7 linked regions of the Homo sapiens genome follow. The gene in region 1 interacts genetically with each later gene. Each region holds a gene or a part of one and is shown in the gene's direction. Other genes may lie near its edges.

Region 1 (4,303 bases):
AGTTAACTTCTCTCTCTGCAGTCTTTGAAAATGTGTGAGATGCAGTTAAAATAGTACTATCAAGAAAATTTTTAAATGAACAGCCTAGGGCCAGGTACAGTGGCTCACACCTGTGATCCCAACACTTTGGGAGGCCCAGGTGGAGGATTGCTTGATCCCAGGAGTTCAAGATCAGCCCGGGCAACACAGGGAGACTCCATCTCTACAACAAATTTTAAAATTTAGCTAGACATGATGGTGCATTCCTGTGATTCCAGCTACTCAGGAGGCTGAGGTGGGAGAATCACTTGAGCCCAGTTGAGGCTGCAGTGAACTGTGTTCATGCCACTGTACTCCAGCCTGAGCAACAAAGCAAGACCTTGTCTCAAAAAAAAAAAGAAAATAGCCTAATTTTTTTGCCTTAAGAAACTAGAATAAGAGCAAATCAAAGTTAAGGAAAGCCTCCTGCCCGTTAAAAAAAAAAGAGAGAGAGAAAACCAATGAAACCAAAAGCTAATTCTTCAGAAGATAAAATAAAATAGATACTGATCAGGAAAAAGACAAACATTAGCAATATCAGGAAAGAAAGGTTGACATCACTATAGATAAAAAAAAGAGAGAGAATATTGTAAACAGACTAAATAAATGAAGAGATATAACCATGTTCATGGATTGTAAAACTAAATATAAGATGTCTTCTCAAATTTATCTAAAAATTCATTGAAGGCCAGGTACAATGGCTCACATCTGTAATCCCAGCACTTTGGGAGGCCAAGGCAGGAGCATCACATGAGGCAAGGAGTTCAAGACCAGCCTGAGAATGTAGCAAGACCCTATCTCTACAAAAAATAAAATAATAATTAAAAAAAACTAGCTAGGCATGCTGGCACACGCCTTTAGCTCTACTTACTCAGGAAGCAGAGGTGAGAGGATCACTTGAATCCAGGAGCTCAAGGTTGCAGTGAGCTATGATTGTGCCACCTGCACTCCAGCCTGGGCAAAAGAGCAAGACTCTGTCTCCAAGAAAAAAAAAAAAAAAAAAAGATTTATTGTAACCCTAATCAAACTATCAAACATTGGCAGACTTTTTTGGGAGGGTAGATATTGACAAGCTGACTTTAAAGTTTATGTGCAAAGGCCACGGAATAGCCAAATCAACTTTGACAAAGAGGCACAATATTGGAGAGAATTTACTATTCTACAAATTTTAAGATTTATTATACTATAGTCAATTTACTATTGTTTGGCATAAGCAGACATAGATCAGTAGAGCCGAATAAGAAGTTCCAGAAGTAGATTCATATATATATGATATATTAATTTTTTGACAGAGATGCTAATTTAGTTGAAGAAGGGGTAATCTTTTTCATCAAATGGTGCTGAAACAGTTAATAGTCATATGTAAAAATATGAACCTCAACTGTTACATTATACCATTTACAAAAATTAACTGGAAGTGGATCATAGACCTAAGTGTGAGAGCTAAAACTACTTAAAATTTCTAAAAGAAAACAAATTGTAGTGACCCTGTTTTGGCAAACATTTCTTAAATGGGACAGAGAAAAGCATGAACTTATAGTTCAGAAAAAAAATCAATAAATTGTTCTTTAACTGAATTTAAAACTTTTGTTCTTCAAAAGACGGTTACACTATTATACAACATCGTGACATGGTTAATGATGATATAGTGCATTCTGGAAAAATGCTGAAAGAGTGGATGTTAAGTGTTCTCACCACAAAAAACGATAACTGTGAGATAATGCAAATTAGCTAGATTAACCATTCCACAGTGTATATATACTTTAAAACAATATGTTGTACATGATAAATATATGCAATTTTACCTATCAATTTAAATAAATAAATTTGAAGAAAAACGGTTACAAAAATGAAAAGACAAGCTACAGACTAGCAGAAAATATTTGTGAAAAATGTATCTGACAAAGGATTTATATCTAGAATATATGAAGAATGCTTATAATTCATTAATAAGAAGACATCCACTTTTTAAAAATGATCTAAAGATTTGAACCAGCAATTACTACAGAAGATATACTACTGATGGGAACGTAAAATGATACAATCACTTTGGAAAACAATTTGGTAGTTTCTTTAGAAATTAAAAGGCCGAGGCGGGAGGATTGCTTCAGCCTAGGAGTTTGAGACCAGCCTGGGCAATGTAGGGAGACTTCTTCTATACAAAAATAAGAAATTTTTTAAAAAAGTAGCTGAACATGGTGGTACATACTTGTAGTCCCAGCTACTCCAGAGGCTGAGGTGGTAGGATCACTTAAGCCTGAGAGGTCAAGGCTGCAGTGAGCCATGATCATGCCACTGTATTCCAGCCTAGGCCACAGAGCAAGACCCTGTCTCAAAAAAAAGAAATAAAGCACACATCTATATTTCCTAGCCACTTTACTCCCAGATGTTTACCCAACATAAATATGTCTTCATGTGTCCACAGAATTATGTACAAATATTCATACCAGCTTTATTTCTAATAGCCCCAAACTGGAAACAACCCAAATATCAATTAACAGATGAATCGAAAAATAGTGATACAGCATTACAACAGACTACAACTCAGCTATAAAGAGGAATGAACTATTGATACATGCAGCAAAATGGATGATTCTCAAAATAATTACAGAGTGAAAAAACTCAGACCAAAAATACCATGTGATTACATTTATATAAAAATCCTAGTAAATGTGTACTAATCTGTAGTGGCAGAAAGCAGATCATCAGCTGCCTAGGGTGCAGGGGCAAGAAGGGATGGATTACAATGGAGTATGAGGAAACTTTTGGGAGACTGATGGCTTCACGGGCTTACATATCTTAAAACTCAACAAATTTTGCATTTAAGTACAACTTCTTTTATGTCTGTTACACCTCAAAAAAGCTATAATGTAAAACATCGTTATACTGTATAGATTTTAGAGTGTTGTTTTAATAGAAATTGAGATTTGCTATTAAGAGAAAATATTACCTAAGTGATATTTACATTATAAAAAGCTAAACATTGTTTACTTCTTTGTGTAGAGAAGAAACTATTATCATATTCTCTGAAGGCCTTTCTTGGGTATTCTTTTCCACATTTAAATCATCTCACTAAACCTTTTTAAGGTTATAAAGCTATTGGAGGGAAGTTTTAGTCTTTCTATGATGGAAATAGTTATTCTGTCATTCAAGGTATGAAATAATAAGAGGAGAATACTTGGAAAATAAAGAGAATTTTTATCCTTTTATTTTACCAATTTTTTCCTTGTGGCTGAAACATGATGAGTGACAGCTTACTGGTGGCTTAAATTTGGTCACCGACCACTAGGAGCTGATAGTTCAAATGTGAGAAGAAATAAACAAAGCATAGTATGTAAACGAGATGTTTCTGATGATCGTAGGTGGGTGACCTTTAAAATCAGGAGTATAACGAACAAGAAAGAACAGAGAGAAATAAATGAGATGATTATTTTTAGATGAATTGAACTGTGGATAGACATCAAAACAGGGAATAAGCAATTTTTGAATTAGACGCATTAAGCAGTAGGGAGCCAGTGAAGGGCAGTGACCTAGTCAGAGCAACAGATGACACAAATTTTTCTTACTATGGCATTTTATTAATAAATTGGTTATATAAGAAATAGGAAGCAGAGATTTAAAAAATGAAAGTTTTTTAATAGTGTAAGGGTTGTAATGCAAACCCTAAACAAAAAGGGGCCATAAATTAAAAGAAAGATACTTAAGTAACCTAAGCAACTTAAGTGGGATTCAGAGGGAGTGAACTAAGACAACAATATGATGTAATGCCTGGAAAACTGAGGTATTTTTAAAACTTTGCACTAAGTATATCGTCAAGTACTATGGCTTTTGAGTTTTTTGATTTGACCTATAGTAAGAAATGTATTTTACATCATGACCTAGTAAATAAATTGTGTATACACCTACACATATAACAAAATATTCGTAAATTATACCTTTATACGTAAGTTCCATGAAACAGTAGATGGAACTTATGTATATAGGTGATAGACTCTGATATTTTATATTGTTTCTTTTTTTTTTCCCTTCCCAAGATGGAGTCTCACTCTGTCGCCCAGGCTGGAGTGCAGTGGCGCGATCTCTGCTCACTGCAACCTCCGCCTCCCAGGTTCAAGCAATTCTCCCGCCTCAGTCTCCTGAGTAGCTGGGATTACAGGCACCCACCATCATACCCAGCTAATTTTTGTATTTTTGTAGAGACGGGGTTTCACCATGTTGGCCAGGCTGGTCTTGAACTCCTAACCTGAGGTGATCCACCCGCCTTGCCTCCCAAAGTGCCGTAATT
Region 2 (4,303 bases), on another chromosome or scaffold:
AAGTAGTAGCAGCACTTCAAGGACATAGGGGTTGCTCATGTCAGTTGTTTCTGTTTGTATTGGAAGAATCATAATAACAAATATTTAAGTTGGTAAATTACTAGGTAAACAGGTTGGTGGATTTTTTGTTATTTTTGAGAATACTTTTTAGTTTGATTCTTTGAATGAATTTACATAACAGCTTTCCTGTCAAGTCAGTAATTTCACCCATCTTTAAAAAACAAGTACCAAAAGAGTTTCTTAACACCATATACTCCTCTAGCAGCTGCTGCCTAGTTTCTCTCCTCCACAACAGAGCTCCTTAAAAGAATGCAGTTCCATTTTCTTTTTTCCATTCTCTCTTGAATCCACTCCTCCAGTGATGGATGAGATTGCAAATGTTTGACTCTGCCTATCGTATTACTCAGTCTCGGCAACATTTCTTTATTTAGCTTCTGGGATACCATTCTAGCCTGGATGTAGTCCTATCGTTGTGATTACTCCAGTCTTCGATGCTGTTTCTTCTTCTTCACCCTGACCACTGTACTTAGAGTATCCCAAGGCTCAGTCCTTGAACTTAACCTGTTATACTGTTGATTTTTTTGTTGATCTCATCTAGTCTCCTGGCTTTAATATCAATATGCTGGCAACCCACATCCTATCTTTAATCCAGATCTCACTTGTGAATCCAGATTCATATGCAACTGCTTAATTAATATTGCTGCTTGGATATCTAAAATATCTTTTCCCTGCCCCTTCCCCATCTCCCACCTAACCTGTTCTTCTTTAGCCTTTTCCATCTCAGAATGGTACCTCTATTCTTCTTAGTTGATCAGGCCAAAAACCTTGCAGTCATACCTGATTCCTTTTTCACACATCCCTCAGCTAGTCTTCCACCTCAGAACTATCTTTCATTTTATTGTTTTTATTTTGTTTATCACACTTAGTAACTTTCTGACATACTGTAATTGATGGTCTCCTACCTATTAGAATATAAGTTTCATGAAGGCTAGATGTTTTAATCTCTTGATTGACTGCTTTATTCCAGTGCCTAGGACAGTACTTGACACACAGGCAATCAATAAATGGGTTGTATTAATGAAGGGAAACTTTAGCTTATATTTTAATATGAATATCTTTTGAAGAAAGCAGTAGCAATGTATATTCCAGGTTTTGAATTTTGTTTTTTTGTGTGCTGTATAACAAACTAGGTACTTCACCTGCTTTATCACTTAGTATGAATTATACCCATTAAATGACTTTTCTACCATGGTGTTTTTGTGATTTATAAAATCAACGTAATTTTAGTGAATAAGGACATTTGTTAATTTTTTATAATCTTGTTTTTAATAAAGCTTATATTTCTGGGAGGCAATTGCCATAGTGTATTGACATGGAAAAAATTTTATGTGCTCTTAACTTGATAGTGTATTTTGGCAGTATCTTTTAACTTTATTTGAATAGATATTGGTAAATAAGCAAACGTCTTGCATTTAGCAGTATTTGGTTGTATTTTCCTGTAATGTGCTAAGGTGAATTTTAAGCTTTTGAGTTGGAAAATTTTATTATTTTGTTGTATACTGTAGAATCTTCTAAGGCCTAGCTGGCTACATTTGACTGTCAAACTAAGCTAATTGGAATAAAAGCCAGTAAAAAGTTACTACTCCGCTCTATTATTTCAAGGCTATGTATAGTCTTATCTAAGAATAAAGAAATTATTGTGAGATAATTTTAGACTATCATGATAACTGCTAATATTTCTGCCACCTTTCTGACTTCATATTACCCAACTAATTAAACCTGATGGTGTTAGAAAGAAAGATTTTCTGGAGATTTCACACACATGTTATCCATCAAGTATAGATAAGTGAGATACAATTCTTAGTGCTTTTGCTTTGAATGTTTAAGGTTTAGCATTAGGGGAAAAAATGGTCCTCTGTTAAGTGTGCAGCATTTTCTTGGTATAATTAAGCAAAAATGGTTTTGTTAAAGTACATTAAGACAAAATTGTGAAAGGTTTAGAATATACATATTTGTTCCTCACAGCTTATCAACAAGTTGAGTGAAAAGCCTTGTAGTCACAAAGCTGATGTCAACCTTCTTTTTATTCCCAGCAAATTAGTTCTACAGTGTTTTGGGATTGGTAACCATTCTTTTTATCACCTACTCTATTACCACAAATCCATTTCATGGTTTGTCTTATAAAGTCCCTGATTGTTTGCTTGATTTTTCCTATGCTGTTAAGTAAGTTCTTTGAATTTTGTTTCAAAGGCTGGGAAATTTATGACTATAAATATTTATATTCTAAAGAAGTTGAATGTGTTAATTGATGATTTTAAAGGGTTAAAATAAGCAGCAGTTCATTACAAAGTAAATGAGAAAATGTTTAACTAATTAAAAATACCATTATGTTTGTTTTTTAAGTTTAATTTATGTGCAGATTTACAGAAATAACAAGCTCTTTGTTCAAGTTCTAGTTCTGTTGAAACCTACCTGTTGCTGTATATGTTACCGGAAAGTTAGATTAACTGATTTGGTTAAGAATATCAATTGATTTTCTGTTTTAAATGATATACTTCTCTTGTCATTAATAGCCTGTTTACATTAAAACTTACCCTTAGGGAGTGATGATGAATACAGTGATGATGATGACATGAGTTGGAAAGTGAGACGTGCAGCTGCGAAGTGCTTGGATGCTGTAGTTAGCACAAGGCATGAAATGCTTCCAGAATTCTACAAGACCGTCTCTCCTGCACTAATATCCAGATTTAAAGAGCGTGAAGAGAATGTAAAGGCAGATGTTTTTCACGCATACCTTTCTCTTTTGAAGCAAACTCGTCCTGTACAAAGTTGGCTATGTGACCCTGATGCAATGGAGCAGGGAGAAACACCTTTAACAATGCTTCAGAGTCAGGTGGGTTTTAAAGTAAAGTTTAGAAAATCATGATAGTAAATGCAATGCTTTTAAAATTGTCTTTATATGGAAAGGTGAGTTCCAGAATATCTATAGAGAAGCAGAAAGTTCTAGGATATGTTTATATAGTTAATGCATGTTCATATTATGTTAGTTGTAAACTATTCTAATTGAATTATTCTTGGCTTTACATGATAAACAATATTTAAATAATTTTAAGATTCAGTAAAGTAGTCTTTATCTTTGATGTTAATAGAGAAGTCTTAGAGCTGTGGAGTCATACTACTTGCGATCACATAACTGACTTCATTTCTAATTTAGGTGTGTGATCTTGGGCAAGTTATTTAGTCATTTTATTAAACCTCACTTTTCTTATTTGTAATAAGAACGTACTTAGAAATATCTACCTGTGGTTGTGAGAGCTGGGTGATCTGTGTAGAGCATTCAGTGTAGTGCCTACTACATATATGCTTGATATATGCCAGTACTTACTAATAAAATACACATTTTTTCACTTGAGGGCATTTGTTTTCTAAGATCCTAAACATTAGAGCTATTATATGCTCCCATTTATTGAATATTTATTACATACCAGGCATTCTCCTATCTTATATGTAATCTCTACAGCAGCCCTATGGGATGCACAAATAGTAGGTCAATTTTTATAGATTACAAAACAGATATTGCCAGGGATTAAACCAGTGGAGAGGACGGGACACACATACTGTATCTATCTTGTTTTTAAGTAGTACAAATAAATACATTTTTGTGGTGAACTTACTCATAAAGGTGAATGTTGAAGATTAATTGTAGAAGGAAATGAGATAAAGTGTATGGAGGACATATGCAAGTGAGTGAGTATATAGAAGTCAGGTATTGCTCAGTAGAGTTGCCAGGAATTCTGACAATGCTATGGAAAGTCAGACATTTTTTTTGTTTTGTCTAGTTCTTAGATCATTGTGTAATTAGGGTATGTGTCCATGTAGTTTGGTTGTTGGGATTTTTCTTGGCTTTTTGTTTTTACTCTGTACTTGCTTTGCTGTTGAGGTATTCTAGAAGCTCCGTTGATAGCTTTGCATCCGTAAGATTTGTTAGTAGAGACCCTGTTTGTTTTACTGACTAGCAAAACATTAGGAAGTTTAGAGCAGATGTCTTTTAATCATACCCCTGCTGCTTGTAGCTACATTTGAAGTGAGGTTGATTCCTTCTAACAGCAAATGGAAAGTAAGAAAAGGACCTGTTCGATGGTTGCTTTTCCATAATTTGTCTTGTTTCCTTTGATTTTTATCTGTGCTGTTGTCATTCAAAATACCATTTATAAATTAACCTCCTAAATTTTTTATTGAAAATATGATTTGATTAATTTCTTTCTTTCTCTTTTTTTTTTTTTTTTGAGATGGAGTCTTGCTC
Region 3 (3,658 bases), on another chromosome or scaffold:
TTATGAGGCAGACTTTTTGTCTACAGCTTTGGAACCAAAAAAACTTCACTCTAATTCAGTCCTAAAGGCTATTTTACATTTTGCCGGGGTAAAGTGACTTCAAGATACAGCATGGTGTCTTGTATCTAGTAGAATATTGTGCTAGCCATCTAAAAAAGTGGATTTGAGCCTTAATTTGGCCGTTTCTCAATTGTCTAGTTGACCTTAGACAATTAGTGTCCATGGCTTTCCTTTTGTTTTTCCCATACTGAGGAACTTAAACTACAGCTCTAAAATGTCTTTTGGTTTTAAAATTCTGAATGCTTATATACTACTATTAAAAATTAAAAATCCCTCAAATAGTAGGGCAATACAGGTAATATGAAATTAAATGTATTTTTATCCATTATTTGATTCCCACCTGTTATTTTATTTAGAATACGAATACAACCAAGTAGGGAAAAACGTATCAGTAACTGCTATTCAACTTAAATTCAGCGAATTAATAGCTGAATAGAAATAGCTAATGACAATGCAAAAGAGAAAACAAGCCATATTGCTAAGAAAAGGATAGTAAGCTGCTTAGAAAGAACCAGCCTGTGTTGGAAATAATTCTCTTCTAGATAATTTACCTTATTTTCTTGGCTTGTACTAATTGAATGGAAGTGGTTAATTTGTTCAGAGTTTATTGCCGTTTGATGCCACCCCAGTCTATAGTTCTGTGTGACTTTCCATATTGAAAGAGTAGGGTTAGTAGCCAGGTTGTCAGTCTTTTACAAATGTCTACATAAATGTCTACATAAATCTGAAAGTGGTTTATATTCAAGGTTAGTTTTTCAGTAGCGTCTCCTCCTTATTCATTCACTTTTACTGTGAAGACTGAAATCCAAAAGCCAGGTTCCCCAAAAAAGTATTTTTAAAAAATTTTAGGGGACCAAAATAAATAGAGGAAGACCAATATAAAAAAATATGTTCAACTATTCCATTTTAAATTTAAAGCAGAAAAAAAAATTGTGCCCCTCAGACCTAAAGGCAGCTTTAAATGTATATAGTTTGGTGAAACATTTGGGAAATATTAATTTGGAGGTTTAGAAGCATACGAAAAACAAATTCAAAGCACTTGAAAGTAAAGACAATATCATGAGGTCGAAAAAACTTCAAAAGGATATTAGGTAAGAGAAAATGTGAATGAAAGCAGTGAATTTCTGCCTCTCCTCGTATTTAGGGTACTTAAAATTACTAAAAAATACTGTCTTTTTACCATACAGCTAGATGGCCTGTATTATTCTTAATGTGGCCAAAGGAGTGAAGACTGATTAGGGTTTTAGAATTTGGAACTGTAGTCACATAAAGGCATCTTTTGCATTTCTTAAACCAGTAATCTACATTTTCTCCTGGAAATGGAGAAATATGAAATGTGCTGTGCATAGCTTTTGGAATAGAAAACAAAGTTTTAAAAGAATGGATATGTTTTCTTGCACAACTTGTAAAATTTTAATTAAAAAATTACCTCATTTTTCAATCCATAAGGTGCTTTGCTCAAGTTTGTGGGATGTTTGTACCATCCCATAAAAACCCCCTTCACCCAAACTGTATTTGAAATATGCAAAATTCATAACTAAGGGATAGCATTCCTTGGAGACTTTGTTTTGTTTTACTCTTGTTTACCAGCTGGGCCAACATGGTAGATATATGAGATTCACATATGGTTTCATTAAAGCACATAGGAAAGTGCTCAGTCAATATTTAATTAGTTTAATTAGATAAGGGAAAGGAGAAATCCTAAATTTGATGGATTCTTTTATACTGTGAATATATTTCCATCAGTGTTGGTAAGATATCAAATGACTATCAGTTGATCCCAGTCATCAGTGACTTATTTGCATATTTAAGCCCTATTCACAAGAGACCATAATCATTTTAATCTTATATTTTCCCTCAGGAAATTTAGGGACTCTGAAGCCCCTATTTTATTCTCTTGGAGTAAACTGTTGAGTGTAGTTACAAAAACTTTTATTTATGACTTAAAAAAAGTTTAGCTGCTATTTCAGTGAAAGTGTAAAATAAAACGGTCATGATTTTTTTCAATTACAGAATAGTTACAAATTTTACCATGTTCATCTATTCCACAGAGCATGTTAAAAACAACAACAACAAAAACCTAACAGCAATTACAACCTTGGTGTTGCGTTTATTCTAATCAGAGTGAATGATTATAATCACACTTTGCTATTTTAACATAAATTGGTGCTTTAGAGCATTAAAGAGGAAGCAGCAGGCCCTGTACTCAGTATTTATTATTTCTTGCCTCAGAATGCAAAACAACTTTAAAGTGTCTATATTCATATATATGTGCATTTCTTAAGATTTAAATACAAACTGTTGTTACTCCTTAAGCTTCAGGCTTTCTGCGAAAGCTCTAAGAATATCTTCATTACTATGCTTGGTCAACTGGAAGATGGTATTAATAAGGTCAGAATTAGGAATTGGATTGCTCTGTGGGTCCTCCGGTATTGTGCAGAGGAAAGAAAAATGTCTTTCACACCACAAACTGTGTGTCTGAACCCCAGCCAAACAAATGTGTTCCATTGGTCCAATATATAAGCATTAACAACAACAACAAAAAATTTAAAACAAGTAAATTAATGCATTCACATGATCACTTCTTGAAAATGGTTCAAAGCATGTTTTCCTGATGGTGGGATTGTTTAAATGACATGTTTTAAAGTTTTTAATACTTTATTAGTTATGAAGTGCTTCTTTTATATGTTAAGTTTAGGTTGCCAGTACTCATAATTTTTATTTCTGCAATTATGTTATAATGAGTTGTTTGCATGCCTACTTAACCCAAGTAAAACGATGCTGTTTGCTCTGGAATGTTCATCTTTTAGACAGGTTTTGGCTCATTTCCAATCATGGTGCAATATAGTGTAACATTCATTTGTTTTCATTCAACAGTTTTATTTTTGTCATAATAAATAATTACTTTTCCAATACGAAGTGAATCCAGTGTTTTCTTTTAAAGGTAAATCTGCTTTAAGTTATTTGCTTGCAAATAATAGAAACCCACCTATGCCAACAAAGAGAGGATAATTGGGGTGAGGTGGTGGAGGCTCACAGAACCCACGGAACAACTGGATTTGTAGAACAGACTGAGACTAGAGACTGGACCATTTAGGAGCAAGCAGGAAGTTACCTTTTTTCCTGCTCATCTGTTTCTGTCTTTCACCTGACTGGATTTCTCTGTTTCCTGATCCACATAACAGATAATGTCCCAAGTCCAGTAGCCTCCTAAATTTGTACAAGGGAGAAGTCAGATTATTGTTAGACTTTCAATTACAATTCCATATTCCCCAGGGAAATTGTTCATTAGCCTGCATTGGGTCATTTCCTCTCTCTGATCTAAACAACTGGCCAAGTGGAAGGTGCATTTACCAGAGAAGGGGAATCCCTGGCCTGGGAAGGTGATCCGGATTGGTGTGTACTCCATTGTGGGGTATAATTGGGATCATCTACCAAAGTTGTGTCCTTGTAAAAAATAAAATAAAATTGAGATCTAATAATGAGTGGGATAACATTTTCACTATGTTCATTCTTCACATTCCTCTAAAGTGGTTTTAACTCCACCGTTTTTGCTCACAGACCTCTTTGGGAATGTGATAAAAGTTGCCTACGTAGA
Region 4 (3,989 bases), on another chromosome or scaffold:
CAGTTTAGCTTACAAGGCTGTCCTCTAAACAGGCATCCTTGTGTAAATGCTTTGAACAAAGCCTTGTCACTGTCTGTGCTTGGAAGACATGCAGAAACATGACACCCATGGAGAACCATCTCCCCACCAGTCATCTGAGAAGTTAGCAGGCTTGTTTTAATGCTGGACAGATGCTTGGCGTGGACAGTCTAAGAGTTAACTAGGCTGCTCAGTATGATAGTGATGGGTGCCCCAGCCCTCCTCATGGAGGTGAGCCGCGCGCATTCAGCTTGTTTCTCATCGAGACAGAGGACAGCATTCTGTTAAGTTTCTGCTGCTGCCATGATAACAGAGCTCGCTGTCACATTCTGGCTCCCGCAGGCTGTGCCCCGGACACAAAGCAACTCTGTCTTTACCCTCGTGAGCGCGGCTTGGGCCATAATAGGACTTTTCTTTCATTTGTATCTATTTCTTATTGTAAGCCTTAGATCATTTATTCCCTTCCTTACACTTCTAGAGGTGAAAGAAAACCCAAGTCTGCCTTTGTAAAACCAAGCTGTGGCCTCAGGAGTCAGGGCTGGGGCACTCAGCCTTCCACCCCCCAGGCCTCCTCTGCCACAGGCCTGCTGCATCCGGCTGCATTTCAGTCGGGCAGCCGGTGGGTTTCCTGACATGCGTGATAAGAGTGGGTTTGAGTTTGGTTTGGCTTGTTTTTTACAGTTGAATTCTATATTATTTGGTCAAAATATTACTTTGCAATTTGCAAATGTGGTGGCACCTACCATTTTACTAGCCACAAGTAACTCATAAGTTGACGTAGGACCTGCTCATATTATACCAATATTTTAAGTATTTTATGTTTCATCTTATTAGTTATTCATTTTATTTTATCTAATGCTCTGCCAGAATTCATTCCAAAAGGTAAAAATTACTAAACTATAAGACTCTTAAATAAGGCGTGTATATTAGCAACTTAGTTTCTGACATATAGAACATTAACATTCCACTGTATCTTAAATGTCTTTTGCCTTTTTATTAAAAAATGATTAAATGGTTACTGAAGTTTTCCTCTGCCTGACATATAAATGTCTTCATATTCTAACATGATATTAGGGAACTAAATATATGAGTATAGACTTAATATTTCTTTTGTCAACTAAACTGACTAAATTTTGTCAAAGCAGATTGGAGACATAAAAACAGCTGAAAAGTATTTTCAAGACGTTGAGAAAGTAACACAGAAATTAGATGGACTACAGGGTAAAATCATGGTTTTGATGAACAGGTAAATATTTTAAAACTAAATATATGTTTTCTCAAATTTCCCAGAGGCGTTCAAGCCCCACTTACTGAGTTGGAAAGCTCCCTAGAGAAGGCGCTTCTCCCTGTATCTCCTCTTGCCCTGTGTCTCTCAGAGCGGAGACCCAAGGAGTATACAGGTGTTTTCTTGAATCGCAGTGATGTTCTTTTAGTCACAGAAGCTGATTTTTAAGGAGCTATTCCCCCTTGTTCTTCAGAGAAGCGCTTGTATTGCCCCCGTTTTCAGCGTATGTGTGTGTAAAGGTCACCATTGCTGGCGTAGCGGCCGTTCTGGATCCTGTGCTCTGGTGTTCTGTGTCTGGATCCCGTGCTCTGGTGTTCTGTGTCTGGATCCCGTGCTCTGGTGTTCTGTGGTAGAACGCACAGCGTCGTGCGAGTGCACGTTCGTGAGGAGGAAACACGCCTTGGACAAAGCCTGCAGCCAGGATCAGAAAGCGTAAATAAAGCAGGTGTCCGCTTTTAGCAGGAAGTCATTTAGGTGAAGTTACTCTATCTCAATTAACAAAAACTAGAGTGGCTTGGCCGGGTGCAGTGGCTCATGCCTGTAATCTCAGCACTTTGGGAAGCTGAGGCACGTAGATCACTTGAGGTCAGGAGTTTGAGGCCAGCCTGGCCAACATGGTGAAACCCCATCTCTACTAAAAATACAAAAAATTAGCCAGGCGTGGTGGCAGTCGCCTGTAATCCCAGCTACTTGGGAGGCTGAGGCAGGAGAGTTGCTTGAATCCAGGAGGCGGAGGTTGCGGTGAGCCGAGATCGTGCCACTGCACTACAGCCTGGGCAACGAGAGCAAAACTCCATCTAAAAAATAAAAATAAATAAAAACTAGAGTGGCTTTAATGTGCGAGCCTGAATGCAAAACGCAGCTCACCGCCTCTACCTGGAGATCAGGAACCCCGGGCCACACAGGGCCATACGCTGGGTCTCTGTGGGATCCAAAGCCCCTGTGGGTTGTGTTGGGGGACAGCAGCTCCTGGGCTTTCCCCGCTAACTGCCACCGTTGCTTGTGTTACAGCGCGTTCCTTCACCTCGGGCAGAATAACTTTGCAGAAGCCCACAGGTTCTTCACAGAGATCTTAAGGATGGATCCAAGAAACGCAGTGGTAAGATCCCCAAGCTGCAGGATCCTCCATCCTCTGCCTTTCACAGACGCTAGAAACATACACCCACACACGTCTCAGCAGGGGCCTGCGCTCTCTCTCTCCAGTCCACCAGCTCCAGGCAGTGGCTGTGGCCCTTAGGGGAAGTGACCCAACAGGGCCACCTAGGCTCTGCCCAGCAGCTCTGCACCACCCCCAGGCCCCTAACACGGCCCAGCACGCAGCCTGGAATGGGCGGGCGTCTGTCCTGGTTGTGTGGGCCAACCCTGGGCGTGTGCTCCTCCCTAGGCCAACAACAACGCTGCCGTGTGTCTGCTCTACCTGGGCAAGCTCAAGGACTCCCTGCGGCAGCTGGAGGCCATGGTCCAGCAGGACCCCAGGCACTACCTGCACGAGAGCGTGCTCTTCAACCTGACCACCATGTACGAGCTGGAGTCCTCACGGAGCATGCAGAAGAAACAGGCCCTGCTGGAGGCTGTCGCCGGCAAGGAGGGGGACAGCTTCAACACACAGTGCCTCAAGCTGGCCTAGCTGCCTCCAACACACTACGTCAGAAGGACCCGGGTCTTTGAAACTGTGTCTTGAAGCTAATGTATTAATGTGACATGGAGGAACTCAATAAAACTCCTGCTTCACTGGTGTCTGCTGCGTGTCTTCTTGGTCCCAAGCCACGGCCCAGCCCAGGACTTCCCCGCAGTTGGTCGGCGTTCAGCCACGCAGTCCCTGCAGCTGGGTCACTGTTCATGAATGCAAGGGGCAGGCGTGCTGGGAGGACACAGCTCGTAGACAGGAAATCTGGAGTCAGCCTCGGGGCCTCTGTTCTGGAGGCCAATCCTGCTTTGCTCGTTCCTTCTGGACATCCTCAGAGAAAAGCTGGGAGGTGTGGAGACCCTCTCGCCGTGCACCTGCACGTACAGGGAGATTTACAACAGGGAAGACACCCCCCACAGATCGCCGCTCATGCTCCTCTTGCCCTCCCCACACACCCAAAACTAAGTGCGTTGGTCTTACCCATCCGAGTCTCCTCCAGCCTGATGCCAGCCAAACGACCCCTGCCAGCCTGGCGGTGGAGGAGAGGCCATCACTGTTTCTCCCATAGTTTATACGTCCACGTGGAGAGTGAGCTGAGTGGAACAGGAAGCACGACGCATAATGAAGCACAGGAAGAGCGCGTAAAACGCAGGCAGGCAGGGGCTGGGGGTGGTTTTGAAGCCAGACACGTGTTTTCATGTGTTCTCTCATGCCTGAAAGGCCTTTTGCCCTTACGTTTACACAGTTATTCCTGCTTTTGAAGAACTTAAAGTACCTGAAAATGTCTTCACTTTACGAAAGAACTCTGCCAAGGGTTCTCTAAATATCTAGCTTTGTGGATAGTTTTAAATATAATTCATTTTACAGACTGTGATATAAACATTTGCACAAAGCGAAGCCATATTTCTGTTAATTTTTGTAATAGAGTAGAAACATACAAACACTGCATCTACCAGACAGTCTCAGCCCATTTGCTGACATCTAGATTAATTATGCATTAAAAGAAAAGAAAAAAGAGGTGAGACAGCCAAAAGGACTGTTGGACACCAAGGAGGTTTC
Region 5 (4,303 bases), on another chromosome or scaffold:
TGAAAACAGATATGATATCTGTTTTTTCTCACCCTATATTCCCAATTCCTGTCACACAGTGGACACTCAATAAACAGTTGCTGAATTAATGAACACATGCTGTGTTATAATAGTTTCCAATTGTTTCATGTTTGTAGCTCTTAGTCATGAAATTTTGGTTCAAGAGATATGTTAGAGATCATCTAGTTCATTATTTCCTAATGTTTTTTATTAGAGAAACTCTTTCACTGTTATGTACTGTCTCTCGAACTCTTTTAAGAATCTTTCCTTTTGGCCGGGCGCGGTGGCTCACGCCTGTAATCCTAGCACTTTGGGAGGCCAAGGCAGGCGGATCACGAGGTCAGGAGATCGAGACCATCCTGGCCAACATGGTGAAACCCCGTCTCTACTAAAAATACAAAAAAAAAAAACAACAAAAAAATTAGCCAGGCATGGTGGCAGGCGCCTGTAGTCCCAGCTACTAGGGAGGCTGAGGCAGGAGAATCGCTTGAACCAGGGAGTCAGAGGTTGCAGTAAGCTGAGATCACGCCACTGTAGTCCAGCCTGGCGACAGAGCAAGACTCCGTCTCAAAAAATAATAATAAAATAAAAATTAAAAATAATTTTTAAAAAAGAATCTTTCCTTTTTCTTTTTCCTCTTTTATATATTCTCTTTTGTCTTTTTCCACATTGTCTGAACTTTTAAGAATCTTTTAATTCACTTTGTTATTTTTGCCTAGCATATTACGAGGAAGTAATTGAGGTTTAAAAGATTTATTATTTAAATTTTTTGCCTTAAGATTATATTATAAAGTTAATTTGAAATCTAAATTGCATTTTTAAATCTAAATTACAATTTTTAAAACCCTTTCCCCATTAATAAGCAGTATATATTGCTTACTTTTTTTTAATTCTGTAAAGAAATGTGATTTTTAAAACAAATTAATATGTTTAGGGAACAATTTATATTGAAATTTAACCAGGTGTTATAGTATCAAAAACCAATAAAACCTGCATTATAATCTTATGTAATTGGAATCTTATATTTTGACCATATAAAAATCAACTTTTTTGTTTTAAACTTTCATACTTTATTTTAAAACAATGTAATTGTAGAAAAGATCTTAGCCTGCTACTTGCAAATACTTCACAAACATTGTAGTTGTGCAGAGTCTTACATCCCAATAAGTTAAAAGCCAAAGTGAATATAATTAACTTTATTTTCTCTTGCATGTTAATTTTTAAAGGAATAGACACATTTAATGCTCTATATAGGAATTTTGATCAGGCCAGGCGCAGTGGCTCATGCCTGTAATCCTAACACTTTGGGAGGCCAAGCCAGGTGGATCAGTTGAGGTCAGGAGTTCGAGACCAGCCTGGCCAACATGGTGAAACCCCGTCTCTGCTACAATTACAAAAAATTAGCTGGGTATGGTGGCACAAACCTGTAATCTCAGCTACTTGGGAGGCTGAGACAGGAGAATTGCTTGAACCCAGGAGACGGAGGTTACAGTGAGCCAAGATTGTGCCATTGCACTCCAGCCTGGGCAACAGAGTGAGACTTAATCTCAAAAAAAAAAAAAAAGAATTTTGAGCAAATGAATACAATTTATAGACAAGCAGCTTGATGTGAGTTTGCAGAATTATAATCAATTTTATGTTGTGTTTCAACATCTGTGTCCTTTATATTCTTTATCTTAATTGGCCAAAATGCAGCTGGTTAATATTTAATATTATACACATATTATTAAATAATATATGATTCCCGATCATTGTATTTAATTTATCTCTTTTGTCTCCAGCCCTTACCCACCAACATAAGCACACTTAACCTAGACTTCAATATGCAGTAGACGCAGTAAATAAACAAATCAATGGGTGAATGCTTATTACTTTTTTCCTTAAGCAACTCTCCTCATATTTTGTTTGCTTGTTCTTCATTTTCTAGGAGAATGTGGATTATATTATTCAGGAGCTCCGAAGACCCAAATACACTATATATTTCATTTGTAAGTATGTTAGTTCACTTTTTCAAACATGTAACAACATCCCAGTTAGTGTGTTTCATTGAGCCCTTCATATCATCAATAACTTCATTGAATCTGTCACTATAAAAGTCTAGTTTATTTAATGTCCTTCCAAAGTATTAAAAATCTTTTGACCTGCCGGGCGCGGTGGCTCACACCTGTAATCCCAGCACTTTGGGAGGCCAAGGCGGGCGGATCATCTGAGGAGTTTGAGACCAGCCTGACCAACATGGTGAAACCCCATCTCTACTAAAAATACAAGATTAGCTGGGCATGGTGGCACATGCCTGTAATCCCAGCTACTTGGGAGGCTGAGGCAGGAGAATCGCTTGAACCGGAGAGGCGGAGATTGCAGTGAGCCGAGATTGCGCCATTGCACTCCAGCCTGGGCAACAAAGCGAAACTCCATCTCAAAAAAAAAAAAAATACTTTTGACCAATATTCTGTTTCAGAGGGCTAAATGTGATTTCCATTCATCTTTGATTGCTTAAATTAAAAATTTTACATTTTACTTTGCCTTTCAAGATGCTTTGTAAGTCAAAAGTTTTAAGTAGACAAATTTCACATCTCACCCCTGCCAAAAAAAAAAAGTATATACTTATCCCTGTTTTACACTTAAAAATTGAGGCATGGAAGCTGATTTATTTTTTGAAGTGGGAAGGTAATACTTGAGTTTGCTGGAAAAGCAGAAATTTACTTTACATACCAGATAAAAGCCTTTCACTTCTCTTTGTTACTATATTTAATGCACTGAAAGTATAAATCATCAGGTAGTGATCTCTTATGTGCACAACTTTCTTGGAGTGGGGGTTAGGTAGGGGAGATCTGGAAATAAACTAGGTTTGTGTTTACTATACAATTTACATGGATTTTTTTGATCCAATACATTCGGCTGTAGAAGTTACATCTATTCTCCTCTAGATGTCATTATTTATCTTTATGTTAATAGTGTTAGTGTAGTCTATTTGGTAACATTTCCAAAACCAAGGACTAGATTTAACAGTAAGTAGGGCATTTGAGAAGTTTTAAAGCTTACTTAAAGGTATTAGAGTTTTAGGGTTTAGACTACAGTCTAAGACGTACATACTTTCTTCAGCGTATACTACTTAAATAGAATAATGATACAAAAAATTAACATTTGCGAAAAGACTATATATATATAAGAGCTCTCTCATATTTTATTTCATTCAGTTCTGTGTAGAATTGAAAAGTTACATAAAGCTTGTCCAGTGGGTTTTCAGTGCACGACGCCCCAAGAGGTAAAAATAGGCAATTTTATTAATCTGTGGCAACTTAATTTTTGTTTGTTTTTGTCTGTTTGTTTTTGGCTAATAGTCACAGGTTTTCTTTTTAAAATTAAACTTTCTATTTTGAAGTAATTGTAGATTCATGTGCAGTTAAAAAAAAAACAACGAATAATAATACAGAGATCCCAGATACCCTTTACCCAGCTTCCCCCTGTGTAGTATCTTACATGATGATAGTACAATATCACAACCAAGATGTTAACACTGATACAGTCAGGATACACAACATTTTCATCTCTATAAGGATCCCTTTTATTAGCTTATATGGACTTCTGTCCCACCCCAACCCCCTCATTAACCCTGGTAACCACTAATATTTTCTCCATTTTATATTTTGTCATTCGAAGAATGTTCTATAAATGAAATCATACAGCATATAATCTTTTGGGACTGGCTTTTTTCACTCAGCATAATTCTCTGGAGAGTCATCCAGGCTGTTCTGTGTGTGTGTGTGTGTTGTTTTTGTTTTTTTTTTTTGTCCGAGAAGCAGTCTTGCTTTGTCACCCAGGCTGGAGTGCAGTGTCGCCATCTCAACTCACTGCAACCTCCACCTCCCGGGTTCAAGCGATTCTCCCACCTCAGCCTCCCGAGTAGCTAGGATTACAGGTACACACCACCACGCCCAGCTAATTTTTGTATTTTTTTTTAGTAGAGACAGGGTTTCACCGTGTTGGTTGTCCAGACTGGTCTCAAACTCCTGACCTTGGGTGATACGCCCGCTTCAGCCTCCCGAAGTACTGGGATTACAGGCATGAGCCACCACACCTCACCTGTTGTGTGTATTAATAGTTCATTCCTCCTTTGAGCTGGAACTGCAAAAAAAAAAGTTTTCTTAATTTAAAAATAGTTCATTTCTTTTTATTGCTGAGTAGTATTCCATGGTATGAATGTACCACAGTTTGTTTAACTATACACCATTGAAGGACATATGAGTTATTTCCAGTTTTGGCTATTACAAATAAAGCTGCTATAAATATCTGTGTACAGATT
Region 6 (4,303 bases), on another chromosome or scaffold:
TAGCTTATGTTAAACTAGATAAAATGAGCTTAGTGAATTTTATGTCTTAATGGTTTCATAGTAACAAATGAACTTTGGTAAGGTCTATTCAAAAATATATCTCCAGGGCCGGGCACAGTGGCTCACGCCTGTAATCTCAGCACTTTGGGAGGCCGAGGCAGGCAGATCACAAGGTCAAGAGATCGAGACCAGCCTGGCCAACATGGTGAAACCCCGTCTCTACTAAAAATACAAAAAAATCTGCTGGGTGTGGTGGCACGTGCCTGTAGTCCCAGCTACTTGGGAGGCTGAGGCAGGAGAATCACTTGAACTCGGGAGATGGAGGTTGCAGTGAGCTGAGATCGTGCCACTGCACTCCAGCCTGGTGACAGAGCAAGATCTGTGTCAAAAAATATATATATATATATGTTTCTAAACTTCTAGCAATTCAAGTTTACACTTTGCTTACTCCAATTTTTGTTTTCACTCCATGTTTATAAAGTCTTAAGAATTCTCTGTGTGTGTGTGTATATATATATATATGTACACATATAGTATATATATACTTTTTTTTTCTGTCTTTTTTGAGACGGGGTCTCGCTCTGTTGCCCAGGCTAGAGTGCATTGGTGCAATCATAGCTCACTGTAGCCTCAACCTTTTGGACTCCCACCTTAGCCCCCTAAGTAGCTGGAACTACAGGCACCTGCCACCACGTCTGGCTAACTTTTGTATTTTTTGTAGAGACAGGGTTTTGCTGTGTTGCCCAAGCTGGTCTTGAACTCCTGGGCTCCAGTGATCCACCAACCTCAGCCTCCCAAAGTGCTAGGATTACAGGTGTGAGGCATCACATCTGGCCTTAAATTTTTTTTATAATGTATACTTGAATTCCAAATAAGGTATATTCAGAATGAATAGAATTAAAAAAACATTTGGTTTATATTTTACTTCAACATTATTAGTTAATGTTATTAGTTTATGATTATGGAACTAATTTATGTTTGACATTTAAAAAATTGAAATGGAATAGATGGATATAATGTGAAAAGTAAATGTGTGTCTTCTTTCTTCTCCATTCTCCCACACACCCTCTACGTTAACTTCTTGAATAACCTAGACATTTTCTGCACATGAATATATAAGCAACTTTTTTTCTTGCAGAATTGGGATCATATTTCCTGCATTTGAATATATTTGAAGCATTATATAGTATATAGTCAAGTACTTCATTACAACTCTATTATAAACTCACTTAGTAGATAATCATCTTTTGATTACCCAGAAAGTATAGTGAGTCTTTCACCAACAAGCATTTATTGAGAGTTACGATATTCTTAACATGCTGAATCTGAGTATAGCATATGTCGACCTCATTAAAATTTAGGCATTTTGGGGACAAGGGCCAGGACAGAATCAAAGATTGCCCAAATAGGTAATGAAGACTAAATTACGTAGTGTAGGCTAGAAAGAGGGACAGCTGTAGTAGGCATGCCAGAAAAAAGGGAGGGAGTTCCAAGAATGAAGATGAAATTACGATAGGTCGAAAAGATGGAGGGGGAGAACATGTTTGGCAATGAGAAAACACTGCATGGAAACAGAAGCGCACAATCTGTGTTTCTGGGAAAGTCACACCTCACTAGAACAGAGGGTTTATAATGCTGGGTGGTGGGAAATAAGGCCAGGTGGCTTAAAGGAACCTGGAAGAGTTAAGCGGGGATAGGCTAGTAAACAGATGTCTTTGAAGATTTATTTGTTCTTTTGTCTGTGTTCTATTTATTGGATGGTGATAAAGAAACGTTATCTGTTTTATTAGGATTTGATTCATAAGAAAAGAGAAATATCTCTGTAATAGAAATGATTAGATGAAGCTGGGTCACCTGAAGATCAGTATGTTCTATTCAACTTCAGACCCTTGCCCAGGGATTTCCTCTAATCCGTTTGAGAATTTTATTTTAGTGTGTGTGCGTGTGTGTGTGTGTGTTTGTGTGTGTTTTGAGACAAGGCTGCACTCTATCTCCCAGGCTGGAGTGCAGTGGCACCATCTTGAGTTACTGCAGCCTTAGTCTCCCAGGCTCAAGTGATCCTCCCACCTCAGCCTCCTCTGAGTAGCTGGGACTACAGGCACATGCCACCATGCCCAGCTAATTTTTGTATTTTTTTATAGAGATGGAGTGTTGCTCAGGCTGGTCTTGAACTGCTGGGCTCAAGGAGCCCACCCACCTCAGCCTCCCAAAGTGCTGGGATTACAGGTGTGAGCCATCATGCCTGGCCCAGTTTGAGAATTTTAAAGCAAGAGCATGCAATTTATTCTTAAAGTTTTAAGAAACTTTATTCTAGTAGCAAAATAGAAATAATATCATGGAAGCCAATTAGAGGCTCTTTATATTAATCCATGTACAAAAGTACAAGTATCGGAATTGAGTTGCTGGTGTTGGGAATGGAGATTCAGGGATATAAGAGGCATTTAAAAATAGATAAATCTGGATTGCCAAGTGCATATAGCGGCTGAAAAGTGGGGATAGGATGAATGAAGGACAGGAGGTTTTGTACATGCCCTTTCCTCTGCTTGAATTGGTTTGCCCTCCTCTCCGACTACTTCATTCCTTCTTGCCTTTTCTCACTTAAAAGCATCACTTCTTCAGGGAAGCCTCCCCTGACTTACATGACTGAATCACTTAGCCAGGCTCTCATAGCCTTGGTAGTACTAATCACACTGTGGTTTCACCGTTGTCTGTGTGATTATTTGGTAAATTACCTGTTTTTCCTTACTGGAATCTAAGCTCCACAAGGGCAGAAGGGCAGGGGTTTTTTTTGTTTGTTTGTTTTGTTCATTATGAAATTAGAGGGTCAACACAAGGACTCTTTTTTTTTTTTTTTTAAAGAGATACTTTGTTGCCCAGGCTGGAGTGCAGTGATGTGATCATAACTCATCTCAGCCTCAAACTCCTGGGCTCAAGTGAAGTATGGGGACTCTTATTTTACTTTTCCCTTAATAGCCTACTATTTCATTTCTTTTCTTTCCTTTTTTTTTTCAACAAAAAATATAAGCTACTATAATTAAAAACTAATAACGCTAAAATGGAATATAAAGCAATTAGTTTTAAAATTTAGATTATATTCTGAATATATCTTATTTGAAATTTAAGATACAGGCGGGGCGCAGTGGCTCACGCCTGTAATCCCAGCACTTTGGGAGGCCAAGGTGGGCGGATCACTGGAGGTCAGGAGTTCAAGACCAGCCTGGCCAACATGGTGAAACCCCATCTCTACTAAAAACCCAAAAATTAGCTGAGCGTGGTGGCGGGTGCCTGTAGTCTCAGCTACTTGGGAGGCTGAGGCATGAGAATTGCTTGAACCTGAGAGGCGGAGGTTGTAGTGAGCTGAAATTGCATTTCTAGTGGGCGATGGAGTGAGACTCCGTCTTAAAAGAAAAGAAATTCACAATATAAACCATAAGAAAAAAAAAAGTAGAGTAGTTTTTATAAGCATGGAATAGAAATGAAAATTGGCGGGAAAGTATAATACTTGAACTGTGTAAGAATTTCTATGAAGGTAATTTATATGCTGGAATAGAAGATGGCTCTTGGAAAGGTCTTGATATTTATTGAACAGATGAGAATAGTGATTCCATAGATAGAAACATGAAAGCTGTCTTCCTTTACTCATCTATGAGGATTGTTCTCTTCTGGGAAGGCAGATGCACATTCACTTTGGGACGTGCTGAGTTTCAGTGGTAGTGGACTTGTCCTCTAGACAGTTGTGGATATAAGCTTGTAATTAAGGAAATAAGACAGAATAGGACAACTGTATGTGAGAGATACTAGCAACAATGGTATGGTGAACGTGGAAACAAATACATTTCCAATGAAGTGAACAGAGAGAGAAATGAAGACCTGAAAGAAAGCAAAGGAATGGGGCTGGGCTTGGTGGCTCACACCTGTAATCCCAACACTTTTGAAGGCTGAGGCAGGAGGATCACTTGAGCCCAGGAAGTTTGAAACCAGCTTGGGCAACGTAGTGAGACCCCATCTCTACAAAAAATAGAAAAATTAGTCTAGTGTGATCGTACATGCCTATGGTCCCAGCTACTTTGGAGGCTGAGGTGGGACTATCCCTTGGGTCCAAAAGGTTGAGGCTACAGTGAGCCGAGATCATGCCACTGCACTCCAGGTAGGAAAAACAGGAAGTAACCAAGCAGGATGAGAAACAGGAAAGATTATAGCATCACAGAAGCCAAGTAAAAAAAGGCTCTTCAAGAAAAGGAGGTGATAAACAGTAGTGTCCAGTGCAACAAAGAACAAACTGTTTCTCTGGGAGAGGGATAGC
Region 7 (4,303 bases), on another chromosome or scaffold:
GTTCTCATTGTGACCCACATGCTATGTCTTAGATTTAGGAAGCTATTAAAAATGGTCATTGGTGGCCGGGACGCAGTGGCTCATGCCTGTAATCCCAGCACTTTGGGAGGCCAAGGCAGATGGATCACCTGAGGTCAGGAGTTCAAGACCAGCTTGGCCAACATGGCAAAACCCCTATCTCTACTAAAAATACAAAAATTAGGCCAGGCACAGTAAACTTCTGATGATTCACGTGCAGGTGGTTCACACCTGTAATCCCAGCACTTTGGCAGGCCGAGGCAGGTGGATCATGAGGTCAGGAGTTCAAGACCAGCCTGGCCAATATGGTGAAATCCTGTCTCTACTAAAAATACAAAAATTAGCTGGGCGTGGTGGTGCGCACCTGTAGTTCCAGCTACTCGGGAGGCTGAGGCAGGAGAATCCCTTGAACCTGGGAGGCAGAGGTTGCAGTGAGCCGAGATCATGCCATTGCACTCCAGCCTGGGCGACAGGGCGAGACTCCATCTCTAAATAAATAAATATAAATAAATTAAAAAATTAGCTGGGCATACGGCGAGACTCCGTCTCAAAAAAAAAAAAAAAAAAGAAAAAAAAAAAAAGAAAGCCGGGCATGGTAGTGCCTGCCTGTAGTCCCAGCTGCTTGAGAGGCTGAGGCAGGAGGAGAATCGTTTGAACCTGGGAGGTAGAGGTTTCATTGAGCCAAGCTCACACCACTGCACTCTAGCCTGGGCAACAGCGAGACTGCGTCTCAAAAAAGTCATTGGTGCTTTATTGTGAAAATACAAAAAAACTCAAATAGAGCTACGTCTTGGGAGGAAGCAACTAGAACTTTGTAATGAATGTAGTTTGTAGGTGTTTGGGTGGAGTAAGGAGGTAAAGATCCTCTGGATCATGGATTCTTCATTGGAATGGCCCTCCAGAGATCTCAGACCACATGACTACATGTGGTTTTTTTGGATATTTTCCAGGTTCTGCTTATGTTTGATTGGAGTTTCTTTCCTCCTTTTTGTTTTTGAAGTATTTTAACCATTTGGTAAGAATATGATATGTTCAAATATATTAGTTTGGTTTCCCTTGATTGACTTTAGAAATCTGCTTAGGTCTTAAGAGTTTGGGGGCATGGTTGCATATTTATGCATTTGTAAGTATATAGGAATTCATTGAATTTGTAAAATAGGTAGGCAGAAGAGTAAGATTGTAGTGTGGAGAATGGCATGAGCAAAGTTAAATGATTGGAAAGTTTATGACATGTTCTAGAGACTGAGTAGAGCAGCTTTTCTAAGTTTTAGTACGTAGGTCAAGAAGAGTTAGGGGAAGATTTGGGCTAAGGCTTAGCTAGCTTTGTCACACTCATCCTTTTTCATCATGTTTATCTAATGATCTTACCTGGATTTAGTTATTCACTTTCAGGTGCAGACAGAAGGTTATGGGTCCTCCAAAGCTTCAGACCTTGGCTAATTTCTCTCCTCTTGTTCATAGCCATTTTACCTTTCATCTTTCCTTCTACCCTAACAATAACCTAACCTTTCACCTGCTAGGACTTCCGGACATTCTTAACCTTGTAGGGCAGGACTGGATTTCTTTCCCGGCCCAAATTCCATGGCTAGCCACTTCATTTCTTTCTTATCACTGTCTCCGACACGCTTTTCTCTATTAACATTTTCCACCATGCCAGACATATGGATTCTGTTTTTTTTTTTTTTTTTTTTTTTTTGGAGACAGGATCTCACTCTGTCGCCCAGGCTGGAGTGCAGTGACACAATCTTGGCTCACTGCAACCTCTGACTCCCAGGTTCAACTGATTCTCATGCCTCAGCCTCCCAAGTAGCTGGGACCACAAGTGTGTGCCACCACACCCAGCTAATTTTTGAATTTTTAGTAGAGACGGGGTTTCGCCATGTTGGCCAAGCTGGTTTTGGACTCCTGACCTCAAGTGATCCACCCGCCTCAGCCCCCCAAAGTGCTGGGATTACAGGCGTGAGCCACTGTGCCTGGCCCAGACATGTGGATTCCTACCCTGTATCATCTACTATACCTTCTCTCTCCAGTGTGCCTTCTTTATTTCTAGGCACTGTTAAAGAAAGATTTAAAGCAGTTTAAATCCTAATCCACCACAGGATAGGTTATCTAATTTCAGCTTATTGATACTCTAGTTCATTCCATACAGTGGTTGTAAAAGATGATGCATCTTGAAACTGTTAACCTTTTCCTTTCCTCAGTAGGCAACTAAGTTGTGTTATAAGATGAAATCCTGGAATGAGTAATTTCTGCCATCTGCTTTATCTTAGACTTGTCTGTGTGTTATAGCACATGGTTTTGTTCACAGCAGTTTTACCTTGGTGATCATGTTCAGCTAGTGGCCAGGTATGATAAAGAATTTTACCTCTGCCTCCCAGGTTCAAGCAATTCGTCTACCTTAGCCTCCCAAGTAGCTGGGACTATAGGCTCACGCCACCATGCCAGGCTAATTTTTTTGTATTTTTAGTAGAGATGGGGTTTCACCATCTTGGCCAGGCTGGTCTTGAACTCCTGACTTTGTGATCCACCTGCCTCGGCCTCCCAAAGTGCTGGGATTACAGGTGTGAGCCACCATGCCTGGCCTAAGAGTCTTTTTTTTTTTTTCAGTAGTTTTTGCCTAGCTAGTTTTTCCTAACAGAACTGTTAGAAAAGCACCAGGTTTGGAATTAGGACATAGTAACCAAGTCCTAAGGACATGGCTGAAGTAAGGAGACCACTTAAAAAAATACCTGTACTAAAGCCAGATGAGGTTTTACTTTAAAGCTATCATTTTAGGAGGCTATATAGTTTTTCCACTGGTATGTCCTACTATTATTCAATCTATTCTTTGAAACTCAGAAGTTCTTTGGAAACAAATTTTTAAATAATTCTTCATATTTCACTTAACAAAAAAAAAATGGCACTCATTTTAGATACCTTTTACCTTATGACCAAGATGATACGAGGTGGCTCATCTCCCACTTTAAAGTCAAGTTCATCTTCAGAGTTTAAAAGATTTGCCACCATTAGGTGGCAATATTCAAAATGGTGTACCTCAGGCTCTGAAAGCAATTATAAAAGAACCGTAGCAAACTATTTTGAAAAAATGGTAACATGGTTGGAATAAGTGTTTAACCTCCTTAGCTGATTACGGCCCTTGTAAGAAACTGAGAGAGTACTGTTTTTTACTTCGTTGTCTCTGTGTACATTATTTATACATATACACATTTTTTAGTCATTCTTTATTGTTATATATTATAGATTCTTGCCTATGTTTTTGTTTCCTTTTGGACTTTTCCTGCTAATTTTGTACTGTTTTTAGGGTCAAAGTAGTTGTATTTTCTCTGGTATTTCATTGGTCAGAGTAATTGTATTTTCTTCCCAAGTATTGAGAAGCCCATCTAAATTCTGCCCCGTAGCTAATACATTGGGGGAATGGGGTGGAGGCGGGGGCGGGATATATTCCCGTAACTTAAAAATAAGCTGACATTTTGAGAATGCTGTGATTAAAAATCAGTATTCTCCTGGGAAGCTAAAAACTCTTATCCAAGTCAGAGATCAGAGTATAGCCTGATAATGAATTCTAGTTGTGTTAAAAATGTTTATGAGTGCGTGTATTAATAAAACTGAAGAGGAGTTACATCATCAAAAAAGGAATGCTTAATTTTGGGACATAGAAAAATGGAGTTAGGCAGAATTGCCATGCTATTTAAAAACTTTCTAGGTGCAAAGGTACCTTGTCCCAAGGACTCGATTACCTGGCCCTCATGCAGGCATGGCCTTGCTCTAAAGATGAATTCAGACCAGGTACAGTGGCTTGCACCTGTAATCCTAGCACTTTTTGAGGCTGAGGCGGGAGGATTGCTTGAGCCCAGGAGTTTGAGACCGGCCTGGGAAACACAGGGACATCCCATCTCTACAAAAGAAACAAAATATCCAGGCGTGGTGGTGCACACCTGTGGTCTCAGCTACTCAGGAGGGTGAGGTGGGTGGATCACTTGAGCCTGGGAGGTTGAGGCAACAGTGAGCCGTGATTGTGATACTGCAATCCAGCCTGGGCAGCAAGAGTGAGACCCTGTCTCAAAAAAAAAGAAAGGATTCACATCAGTCATTGCAGCCTGTAACACTCCTTGTGGTTGGGATTCCATGCTCCCCAAGTAATCATCTGATTTTAATTCAGCCATCATGTAACATATCCTCAGGGATAGACTTGTTACTTGTCATTCATTTTTCAACATTTGATCTTATTGTATGTTACTCATTTGCTGTTCTTATTTATGTCTTAGTCATTTCCATGAATTGCTCT

What was found.
Region 2: changes in RAB2A (region 1) and CAND1 together harm fitness more than expected from each alone (negative genetic interaction), as found in Homo sapiens cells (one large-scale study listed by BioGRID).
Region 3: changes in RAB2A (region 1) and ARL5B together harm fitness more than expected from each alone (negative genetic interaction), as found in Homo sapiens cells (one large-scale study listed by BioGRID).
Region 4: changes in RAB2A (region 1) and TRAPPC12 together harm fitness more than expected from each alone (negative genetic interaction), as found in Homo sapiens cells (one large-scale study listed by BioGRID).
Region 5: changes in RAB2A (region 1) and VPS45 together harm fitness less than expected from each alone (positive genetic interaction), as found in Homo sapiens cells (one large-scale study listed by BioGRID).
Region 6: changes in RAB2A (region 1) and TRAPPC11 together harm fitness less than expected from each alone (positive genetic interaction), as found in Homo sapiens cells (one large-scale study listed by BioGRID).
Region 7: changes in RAB2A (region 1) and ARL5A together harm fitness more than expected from each alone (negative genetic interaction), as found in Homo sapiens cells (one large-scale study listed by BioGRID).

The regions. Positions count from the first base shown.
Region 1 is NC_000008.11:60,585,931-60,590,233, forward strand, and holds part of RAB2A (ras-related protein Rab-2A), read left to right. Parts: intron 1-4,303.
Region 2 is NC_000012.12:67,299,723-67,304,025, forward strand, and holds part of CAND1 (cullin-associated NEDD8-dissociated protein 1), read left to right. Parts: intron 1-2,600; coding exon 2,601-2,893; intron 2,894-4,303. UniProt on the Homo sapiens protein: Key assembly factor of SCF (SKP1-CUL1-F-box protein) E3 ubiquitin ligase complexes that promotes the exchange of the substrate-recognition F-box subunit in SCF complexes, thereby playing a key role in the cellular repertoire of SCF complexes.
Region 3 is NC_000010.11:18,678,665-18,682,322, forward strand, and holds the end of ARL5B (ADP-ribosylation factor-like protein 5B), read left to right. Parts: 3' UTR 1-2,975; downstream 2,976-3,658.
Region 4 is NC_000002.12:3,476,532-3,480,520, forward strand, and holds the end of TRAPPC12 (trafficking protein particle complex subunit 12), read left to right. Parts: intron 1-1,163; coding exon 1,164-1,264; intron 1,265-2,061; exon of another isoform or gene 2,062-2,314; coding exon 2,315-2,402; exon of another isoform or gene 2,403-2,687; coding exon 2,688-2,930; 3' UTR 2,931-3,034; downstream 3,035-3,989. UniProt on the Homo sapiens protein: Component of the TRAPP complex, which is involved in endoplasmic reticulum to Golgi apparatus trafficking at a very early stage.
Region 5 is NC_000001.11:150,070,239-150,074,541, forward strand, and holds part of VPS45 (vacuolar protein sorting-associated protein 45), read left to right. Parts: intron 1-1,927; coding exon 1,928-1,988; intron 1,989-4,303. UniProt on the Homo sapiens protein: May play a role in vesicle-mediated protein trafficking from the Golgi stack through the trans-Golgi network.
Region 6 is NC_000004.12:183,686,793-183,691,095, forward strand, and holds part of TRAPPC11 (trafficking protein particle complex subunit 11), read left to right. Parts: intron 1-4,303. UniProt on the Homo sapiens protein: Involved in endoplasmic reticulum to Golgi apparatus trafficking at a very early stage.
Region 7 is NC_000002.12:151,818,072-151,822,374, reverse strand, and holds part of ARL5A (ADP-ribosylation factor-like protein 5A), read left to right. Parts: intron 1-4,303. UniProt on the Homo sapiens protein: Lacks ADP-ribosylation enhancing activity.